Linked DNA regions of Homo sapiens: region 2 is linked to region 1. A link means that fine-mapping ties the variant in region 1 to the plasma level of a protein whose gene starts in the linked region. Region 1 holds a variant in brackets. A gene starts in the other region. All regions are shown on their reverse strands. Region 1 has its middle 160 kb from the start of PPP1R3B-DT. Region 2 holds the start of HSD11B1 (hydroxysteroid 11-beta dehydrogenase 1).

What was found. A credible set is the group of variants that fine-mapping cannot tell apart. PIP is the chance, under the fine-mapping model, that this variant and not a neighbour inherited with it causes the effect. Protein levels are from antibody-based Olink assays in UK Biobank. Linkage for the fine-mapping came from a reference panel and not from the study's own genotypes, which makes the PIPs less certain.
Region 2: HSD11B1 starts here. The variant in region 1 is the best candidate, but not a certain one, in a credible set for the plasma level of the HSD11B1 protein (UK Biobank, PIP 0.50).

What each region holds. Positions count from the first base shown.
Region 1 is chr8:9,313,495-9,317,897 of GRCh38, reverse strand. No RefSeq gene overlaps it. Among named protein-coding and RNA genes, the nearest start is that of PPP1R3B-DT, 160 kb to the right of the region's middle. The variant C/T (reference allele first, on the strand shown) is at 2,050.
Region 2 is chr1:209,702,522-209,706,924 of GRCh38, reverse strand. It overlaps HSD11B1 (hydroxysteroid 11-beta dehydrogenase 1), which reads right to left and starts at 2,079. Exons shown (of 6, transcript NM_005525.4): 1 at 1,895-2,079; 2 at 984-1,114; 3 at 105-216. The coding sequence starts at 1,982. All of the region lies in intron 1 of HSD11B1-AS1 (HSD11B1 antisense RNA 1), which reads left to right.

The DNA.
Region 1 (4,403 bases):
CCAATAGCAAACCACCCAACCACCTGAGAATATTGCACTGCAATGTTCTTGTCGCTCACAGCAATTCTATTTCTGACCAGCCAGTTTACAGTAGCAGGAGGGAGTGAGGCAGGGAGGATAAGAAGCAGTTACCCAGGGACAATTTGGGGAGAATTAAATAGAAAATGTTTGCAAAGGGCCCGGCATAGGACTTTGAGTCAAATAGATGCTCAATAAATACTGGTTGTCCATTCTGTGGGCTTCTTTTAGATCTCATATGAGTAGAGTTCACCGTGGTGCACAGTATTCTTCAGTATAAAATTTGGACTTTGAATGCATTCATCTCTTTGAATAATTAAACAAATGCAGTCACTCACACGCTCAAAGAAGGCCATGATGAGAGTGTGTTACAAATCGAGTTCTAATTAATCTAATTCTATCCACGTGAGGTCAATTAAAAACAAAAATATGAATGACTCTATCTTTTATTGTTTTAATCAATCACATAGGCCCCTACTTGTCCCAGGAAGTCAAGTATCTCCCTCTAGGGACCTCCACTTCTCATTCAAGAAAATACTCTTCCATTCCAGTCTGGCTCAGCACAAAGGGGCTGATGATCACTTCTGGTGTCAAGGCCAGGCATCTGGAAACTGAAAACTGTTAGTAGTTAACTGTATCTCTTGCATGGCTGTGCCACACAGTATTGTGGATGGAGCTTCATGTGATCAGTCCCTGGATGCTTGCCCTCTCTGTGGCAATACTCTGGGTTTCTGCCCAGGCCAAGTGGTGTTCCGCTCCTGAGCTCAGATACGCAGCCGCCAGCAGCAGCCACATGATGTGCAGAAACAAATCCTCCCTCAAGTTCAGGGACTCTCAGGCCAGGGATTGAAAGTCACATGCCTATACAGCAGGCAGGTAACAGAAATGAGTGGACAAAATTTAAGAAAAGTTGGCATATACACTTTATTCTTATTTTATTATTATTATTATTATCATTATTATTTTCAGACAGAATCTCACTCTGTCACCCAGGCTGGAATGCAGTGGCACAATCATAGCTCACTGCAGCCTCCAACTCCTAGGCTCAAGCAATCCTCCCACCTCAGCCTCCCAAGTAGCTGGGACCACAGGCATGTACCACCAGGGTCAACTCATTTTTTAAATATTTTGTAGAGATGGGGCCTTGTCATGTTGTCCAGGCTAGTCTCAAACTCTTGGGCTCAAGCAATCCTCCTGCCTTAACCGCCGAAAGTGCTGGGATTATAGTCATGGGCCACCACACCCAGCCAGATTTATTTTTTATTAAACTTGAATGTTAGCAGGTTATATGTAAATATATGTAATATTGACTAGATTTTCTATGTATATAATGCAAGTAGAGAATAAGGAATGCTTAATAAATACACTTTTTAAATAATTCATTTCTTCTTTAATATAACTCTGGAAACCAGGCACTGCTGTTTCTAGATCAAAATGTCAATGTCTCTTCTGTTTTGTTTTCTGGACATGGATTCCTAGAAAAGTTACACCTTTAGATTTCTGGGACTTCAGTATAGTTATGGTAAATTTTTAGTACTATTTTTCCCTACAGTTCAAGCATATCAATTTATAGTGCTTCCTTTATCCTATCAAGATTAATTGAGGAAAGCAAACTCAACAATGTTATTTCATTTTCATTACGTTTGAAATACAATTTTTTGGAGTCTGGTCTACAAATGGACAATTTTAAGAATATAGTTCCGTCTATCACTTTCATTTCTGGAAACTCATTCCAGTGTAGTTAAGTGGGTCAGATAATTTTCCATGAAATGAGTTTCTCAGATGTAATTTCTTTAGAAATGAGTGCATTGCATCTTATATTTCTTAACTACAGTGTCTAGGTATCTCACGCACAGACACCCTTCAAAACAAATATTCCAGATTTTGTTTCTGATGGCCTAGTCTTTGGTGAGAAGGCATGGAAATTTTTCCTTGGATCAATGAGCAAGTCAATTTATTTCAACAATTCAAAAAAACTCTTTCTGGCCAGGCGCGGTGGTTCATGTCTGTAATCCCAGCACTTTGGGAGGC[C/T]GAGGTGGGCAGATCACTTGAGGTCAGGAGTTTGAGATCAGCCTGGCCAACATGGTGAAATTTTGTCTCTACTCAGAATACAAAAATGAGCCGGGCGTGGTGGCACACACTTGTGATCCCAGCTACTTGGGAGGCTGAGGCAGGAGAATCGCTTGAACCCGGGAGGCAGAGGTTGCAGTGAGCCGAGATAGCACCACTGCACTCCAGCATAGGTGACAGAGCAAGACTCTGTCTCAACAAAACAAAACAAAACAAAATATCTTTCCAATTTTAAACCCCCTCGATGGATCTCCCCAGACTCCATGAAATACAGCTGAATATGGTGTTCTGTTTCAAGAGGGTCATGAAAATCATTGTACTTTCAGCAGTTCAAGGCACAGAATCATATTCCGTACTCAGTGCTAATTGCAATGTCCCTGACATTTTCCAATTCTAACCTTTTAGTGCTAAGCAATTGCTGGTGAATAATGTAATGAATGGGCTGAAGTTCTCTGTCCTTACAAATGTTGCCTTGCTACATTTTCTAATAAGTCTGAAATTAACACTAACAGGTCACCTGTCACAGCCTGTAACCACGCTGTCTGATATTGACTGGTCTACTGTCTGCTCAAACCATCAAGACTCTCCTGGCACCCCTAAATAGTTCATTTCCTGATATTATGTCTGTCATACTGATATATCCAAATGACCTCTTAGCCCATCAATCCTAATCAACTCCATGAACAAATATACTAACTTACCAGCTACAGCAAGAAAACACTAGTAATTATTTACCTTTCTTACGTAAGTCGTGCTATGGATTCTTAGCCATACCTTCAACACACACTGCAACAGAATTTCTGGTTGTTTCTGTTTGGGATACGTAATGTCTGTTGCATTCAATAGACACTCTTGTGTAAACTCACCATCTGTCAGTGGTATTGACGCCCACGCAGAATTTTCTCTTAAGATATAGTGGCATTTAACTACAGCATCACTTTAACAGATTCAGTTTTTTTTAAAAGCCTTTTAAAATACCTGTCCTCTTTTTGGTTTAGTGTTTTTTATCATGCATATTTTTTCATACTGGTCATAGGTATGACCATGTTTTGTTGCATCCCTTATATTCTTTTGACACAGAAACACAACAACCTTCTCGAGGTATCTTTCATTTCAGAGAAGCAGCAGGTGGGAGTTCAGTAGATCTGATCTGTGACATTAAACCAGGCAACTTAACTTCTCTAGGTGTCAAGTTCTGGGTCTCCTCTGCAAAAATGATGGCTGGCTGCTGACTAACCCTCTAACGTCCTATGCATTCTAATATGTTTAAATTTTATGGCCTGAAGTCCTAATGGATCCCAGGTTCCTCCTCTATCCCAGAGGCAAGCTGCCTGGAAGAGGGACTTTTTCCTAAGGAAAATGAGTCTGTACCCCAAGCTATAACAGACACTCACAGCAAAGCAGCAGTATTATTCATCCTAGCACTACTTAACCTTACATGTGATTATATGCAAAGCATTTCATTGCTTTTCACTTTATGCCTACATATACATAAGATAAAAGGGAGAAGAAAGGATAGATGAGGTGAGAGGGGGCCTAACATTACGTACCTACCACAAATCAGGTGTATGCAAGGACTTTTATATACAAGCTCTCATTTAATCCTCCCAATAAATCCATGTGGGAGATTATGTTGTCCTCACGTTACAGATAAGGAAAAGAAGCTCAGAGGCTTTCAATATTCTGGCCAAGATGACACAATTAGCAGCAGATCTAGGATCTGACCAATTTGGCTTGACCGCAAAGCCCATGGTGTATCCACTATACACTGTGTGATTCTTCGTTCCTGGGCAGTCTTCCTTGCCAGTGGGTTTTCTTGGGTTGCCCATCTCCCAGGCTGTCCATGCTAAACAAGAATGCTTTATTCTCTTATGCCCCTTGGGCCCAGAAGCCCTGGCTCAATCTTGGGTTGACCAGGTTGAAGGCCAAAATGAGGAGAGACAAGGCCAGGATGCAGAGCCTGGTGTGAAGATCAACAAGACCCAGGAGCTGAAGGTCCAGCCGGAGCCCTGGGTCCAAGCTGGGTGAGCCTGTAAGAGGCAGGAGCAGGTGGAAGCTGAGAGGCAATGGCCAGGAGAGGCAGGGAACAGGCCCAGGTCACACAACCTGAATGTGCTTAGGGGCTGTTGCAGGCCATAGTCCAACCCAAAAGCACTGACTGCCAGAGAGTCAAGTCTTTTTCAGAGGAGATGGAAAAACCAACCAACCAATTAGACTGATTTTATACTGTTAGATGTAACACCTTGTGCTGGCTGGTATTAACAGAACATCTGTGGCTAGAAGTACTCTCCTGATGGCATGCTCTCTCTGTCTCC
Region 2 (4,403 bases), not on the chromosome of region 1:
TTAAGAAATCATCTGGGGTTGATACCTTTCCCATTCTCCTCCCAAAAGCTCTTGGTGACCCCAAGGGCAAAGTTCAGAGGAGGAGGTAAGAGAAACAGCCTCACCCATGAGCTTTCCTGCTTGGGCAACAAATTGCTCTGCGAAGGTCATGTCTTCCATGGTGCCAGCAATGTAGTGTGCTGAGGCTGCTCCAAGCTCCAGGCAGTGGGATACCACCTGCAGTGATACAGCAGAAATGGCATCAGTCTTAGCTGCAGATTTTTGGGGGGTAGTCTCTGAAGTAACGGGGGGCTTAAATGAGAGATTGCTCACAGCCCTGTTTAGGTAAGAAATGGTAAGTATGTTTGTGTGTGTGTTGCCTAATATAACCCTCATGATCATCGTCCTCTGTCTGAAATATTTTCTGGAACTTGGTGGGGTTCAAATGGATAAATCATCCCAGTGCTGGGGTTTAAGTTCATGATTTATGCTCATGGCTTCTGTGAATAGGCATTTCTGAGGGCATTATGAGTGTAGATGCTGGTTACTATGTGGGTAGCTCTAGGTTTGTGAATGTTTGTACATCCTTGGGTTTGTGAGTCCATGAGAGGGCATGTGTCTGGGAGTCTGCATGGGTATGAGGATATGTATTCATAAGCAGGTACTGGGATTTCAGTTTTTGAAAACATCCGTATGTATCTGTAGTTCCATGTGTAAATGTGTGTGACTAGGCATGTCTGTGAGCATATATAACTCAAGGACTCTGTTGCAGAATATATTACACACACACACATGAATGAATGCTTAAATGCATACTTTTATATTCCTGTGGGTTTTTTGGTGTTTGAATCTATATATGAGAGTGCAAAATTAAGTGTCTGTGTGTGTGCATGTGCCTCTGTATATAGATCTGCGATATGCTAGCTTCTGTGTATATGTGAGCATATATAAGAACACATCTGAGCATGTGACGGTACACATATCTGCGAGCATAGAACCCTCACCTTCTGTAGAGTTTCTTTTGACCTCGCTGTCACCACCACATGGGCTCCCATCTTCGCCAGATGATAAGCCATCTCTCTTCCGATCCCTTTGCTGGCCCCTGTGACAATCACTTTCTTTCCTTGGAGCATCTCTGGGGAACCCCAAAAGGAAGTGAGGACCATACCCAAGTTGGCAGCAAAATTCCTTCTCCCTCTCTGGATATAGGCATGCTTATCGCAATTTGTAACTTAAAGGTTATGAGCCCAGATCAGTTTGTCACAAACTCCGTAAATCACTGTGGGAACAGGCCAGGTCTTTCATAAACATGCTCTGAAGTGGGAGGTTTGGGCTGACAGCCTCCCTACTGTCATTTCTAAAAACCTCCATGGAAAGAGATCATAGGATGAAGCCAGAAAAGTCATGGTTCAGCTAAAATGCTGGAGTTCCAGACATTTCTGGACTCTTTCAATTTTGCTCAATTGAAAGTACATTTAACAAGGAATCAAAACACATGTGTTCATAGAAATTCCAGGGATTTTCCCTCACTTCTATGTAGTCATCATCTCCAGTTTTTTTTTTTTTTTTTTTTGCCTCCCACTTATCAGTCTCTTCATAGAGCCCAATTAGCTGCTGAGTTGTGAATTTGGGTATTACTCTCATTTTTGTAGAAGATTTGAAACTGCTTTCCATTAAGGGTGCCAAATAAAGCATGGCCTATTTGGCTAGATTTTGGCTACACGATTACCCTTCCTACACAGTCCCCCCTGTCCACAGCCTGTAGCTGGAGGACACAAAAATACCATCTTAACTCAGGGTTCCCTCATTTTCACCAACTTTGAGGATCAAGAACACATCTTGGTCCTCAGGAACACTCAAGCACCCCTGTGTTTTTTAAACCTATTCCTCCAAAATGAGACGCATGGGTACTTACCTGGTCTGAATTCCTCGTTTGCAGAATAGTAGTAGTAGGCCATGAAGAGCCCCAGAATGGGGAGGAGATATTTTTTCATAAAAGCCATCCGACAGGGAGCTGGCCTGAAGACTCCTGTAGGACACACAGAGAGAACCTACAGAGCTTTCTACAACCTCCTAAGCAGGCAGCAGCCTCTGAATTGTGACATCAGGGACGGGGGAGGCTGGAGTAGTCTCAGGCAGTGCTAGCCAATTTCCCTGTCAGAGCAGCGATTGGCTTTGGGTGGGATCCCATTCGTCCCTGGCAGCCTGTGTGGTGGATTTCATAATGGACAATGTTTACTCCATTTCATTGAGCAAGAGGAGACTTCCAGATGGCCAAGCTCATGACTGTACAGGACTGGATTCCTGAGCATCCCTACCCGAGTCCATCTTACTCTTAACACCATTTACGCCAGGGATCAATGATCTTTCAAAAGTAATTTGTCAAAGACAGAGAGAGAGGAGTGCATGTAGGGCTTCTGGGGGGAAATGTGAGTAATAGCAAAGAGAGCCAAACTCAAGCCAAATCTCACTCTCAGTCCCCCTACCCCCCCACCCAGTGGGAAGCAATTAAAAATAACAGCACAAAACAGCAAAATAAGCTTAAGAAAAAAAATGTGCACATTTTGGGAAAAAATAATGAAAGCAAAGAAGCTCTATAAGCCCCACACTCAAGTTCAATGAAAAAGTATTACAACATCAAAGGAGAAATTGCAAGCCAGCCAGAACCCAGATGGCGGGAAATCCAAGACTGGTTCAAGACTCTAAGGCAAGTGCAATGGATCATACACTTATTATTTTAACAGAGAACAAAGAAGAAATAATGAGTGACAAAAAAGGCACTAAACTATTAAACTGGGTCTTGTAAATGCTGTAGAGCAACAAGAAACATGGAGAAGATGCTAGGAAGAGGCGACCTGATGTAGAAGAAAAAAGAACTAGCATTAGGCAAGTGAAACTAGCTGGGGACGCCCACACCAGCTAAAAATAGATCTAGTAACAGTAAAAGGACGAGGGTGGTAAGAAACCCTTAGCAATTTAGAATTTATTATCAGGGAAATATAAAAATAACCACCTCAGTATGTCCGTAGCACGAATTCATTAAGGAATAATCCTCAAAGAAAGAATTTAAGATGTATCATTGTTAAGTTTTTCAACTCAAAACCAACCAATCAACTCATGGAAATTACCCCATCACAATGCAGTCCTGCATTCTGTAAGTTATCAGTAGAGCGGGGAAAAAATTTAAATGTGATAATAAGTATCAGTGCTTTGGAGGAGGGATAGGAGTTGGGAGTAGTGGGGGGACAGAATTTACACAAGGTTAAGGGAAATTAAGTTATGATTCCAAGTGCAGTATCTGGAAACATTCATCAAATTTTCACTTTAGAGTAAGAGAAAATAATTTAAGACCCAGAGGAGATGAAACAATTTGTCAACAAAGGCCCACAGCTGTGAGGGTCACTTGTAGAAAACAATGGAGATTTGAGAACAGTTGAGGGCTAGACAGAGCTCGAGGTCTATGAAGGACAAAAAGAGAAAAAAGATAAAATTCAAGTAAAAATTAGATTACATGCCTTTAGAACTGCAAGCTACATTTGTATAATTTTATAAATATATTTATGATACCAGGATATATTACAGACTACACTCCATTTTCATCCCTAGAGGGAAGGCAGTGCCAGCCAGAACCCAGATAAGGTTTATTTTCTTAATCCTATACTATTAATAGTAAAATTATAGGAAACAATGAAAAGTTATTTGGAAATATGATGATGTTGAAATGATAGAAAGATGGGCAGACTAGGGATGTTTATTGTCTGACATAAAAAATAAATAAAGAATTTTAAAGTCCATTAAGAAAACATAAATTTAAAGAAAGCAAAAATAACAATGAGTAAGATAAACTGCAGAGTAATAGAACACAAAGCAAATGCATTAACAATTGCTGATTGTTGGCTCCATTAAAAAATGAAGTCCAACATTGTGTGGCCTCAAAAGACACATTTAAACCCAAAGACACAAACAGATTAATAATTAGATGACCTAATAGCTACGATGCTAGAAAATAAGGATATGGCAAAAGCATCCAATAAAGTGAGTTTCATGGGATTAGATAAAATAATTGCTATATAAAATGCATTGATGAGAAACAAGGACACTGTGTAATGGTAGTTGATGCATTAAATCTTACCAGTTCTCAAATTTTTGGTCTCAGGACCCTTGTATACTCTTAATAATTTCCAAGGACCTCAAAGAACTTTTGCCTGTGTAGGTTTTACCTATTGATATTGCTATTGCAATTTATGCATTAGAAATTAAGACTGAGGATTTTTTTCTAAAGCTCAAGAATACATAAGCATACATTCCATTAGCATTCAGGGCAGTGGCATTAGCATACATCCTGTAGCCTCTGGAAAAGTCAGGTAATGTCTTAGTATAATTATGAAAATAGTTTTGACCTTTCAACCCTTCAAGAGGGTCTC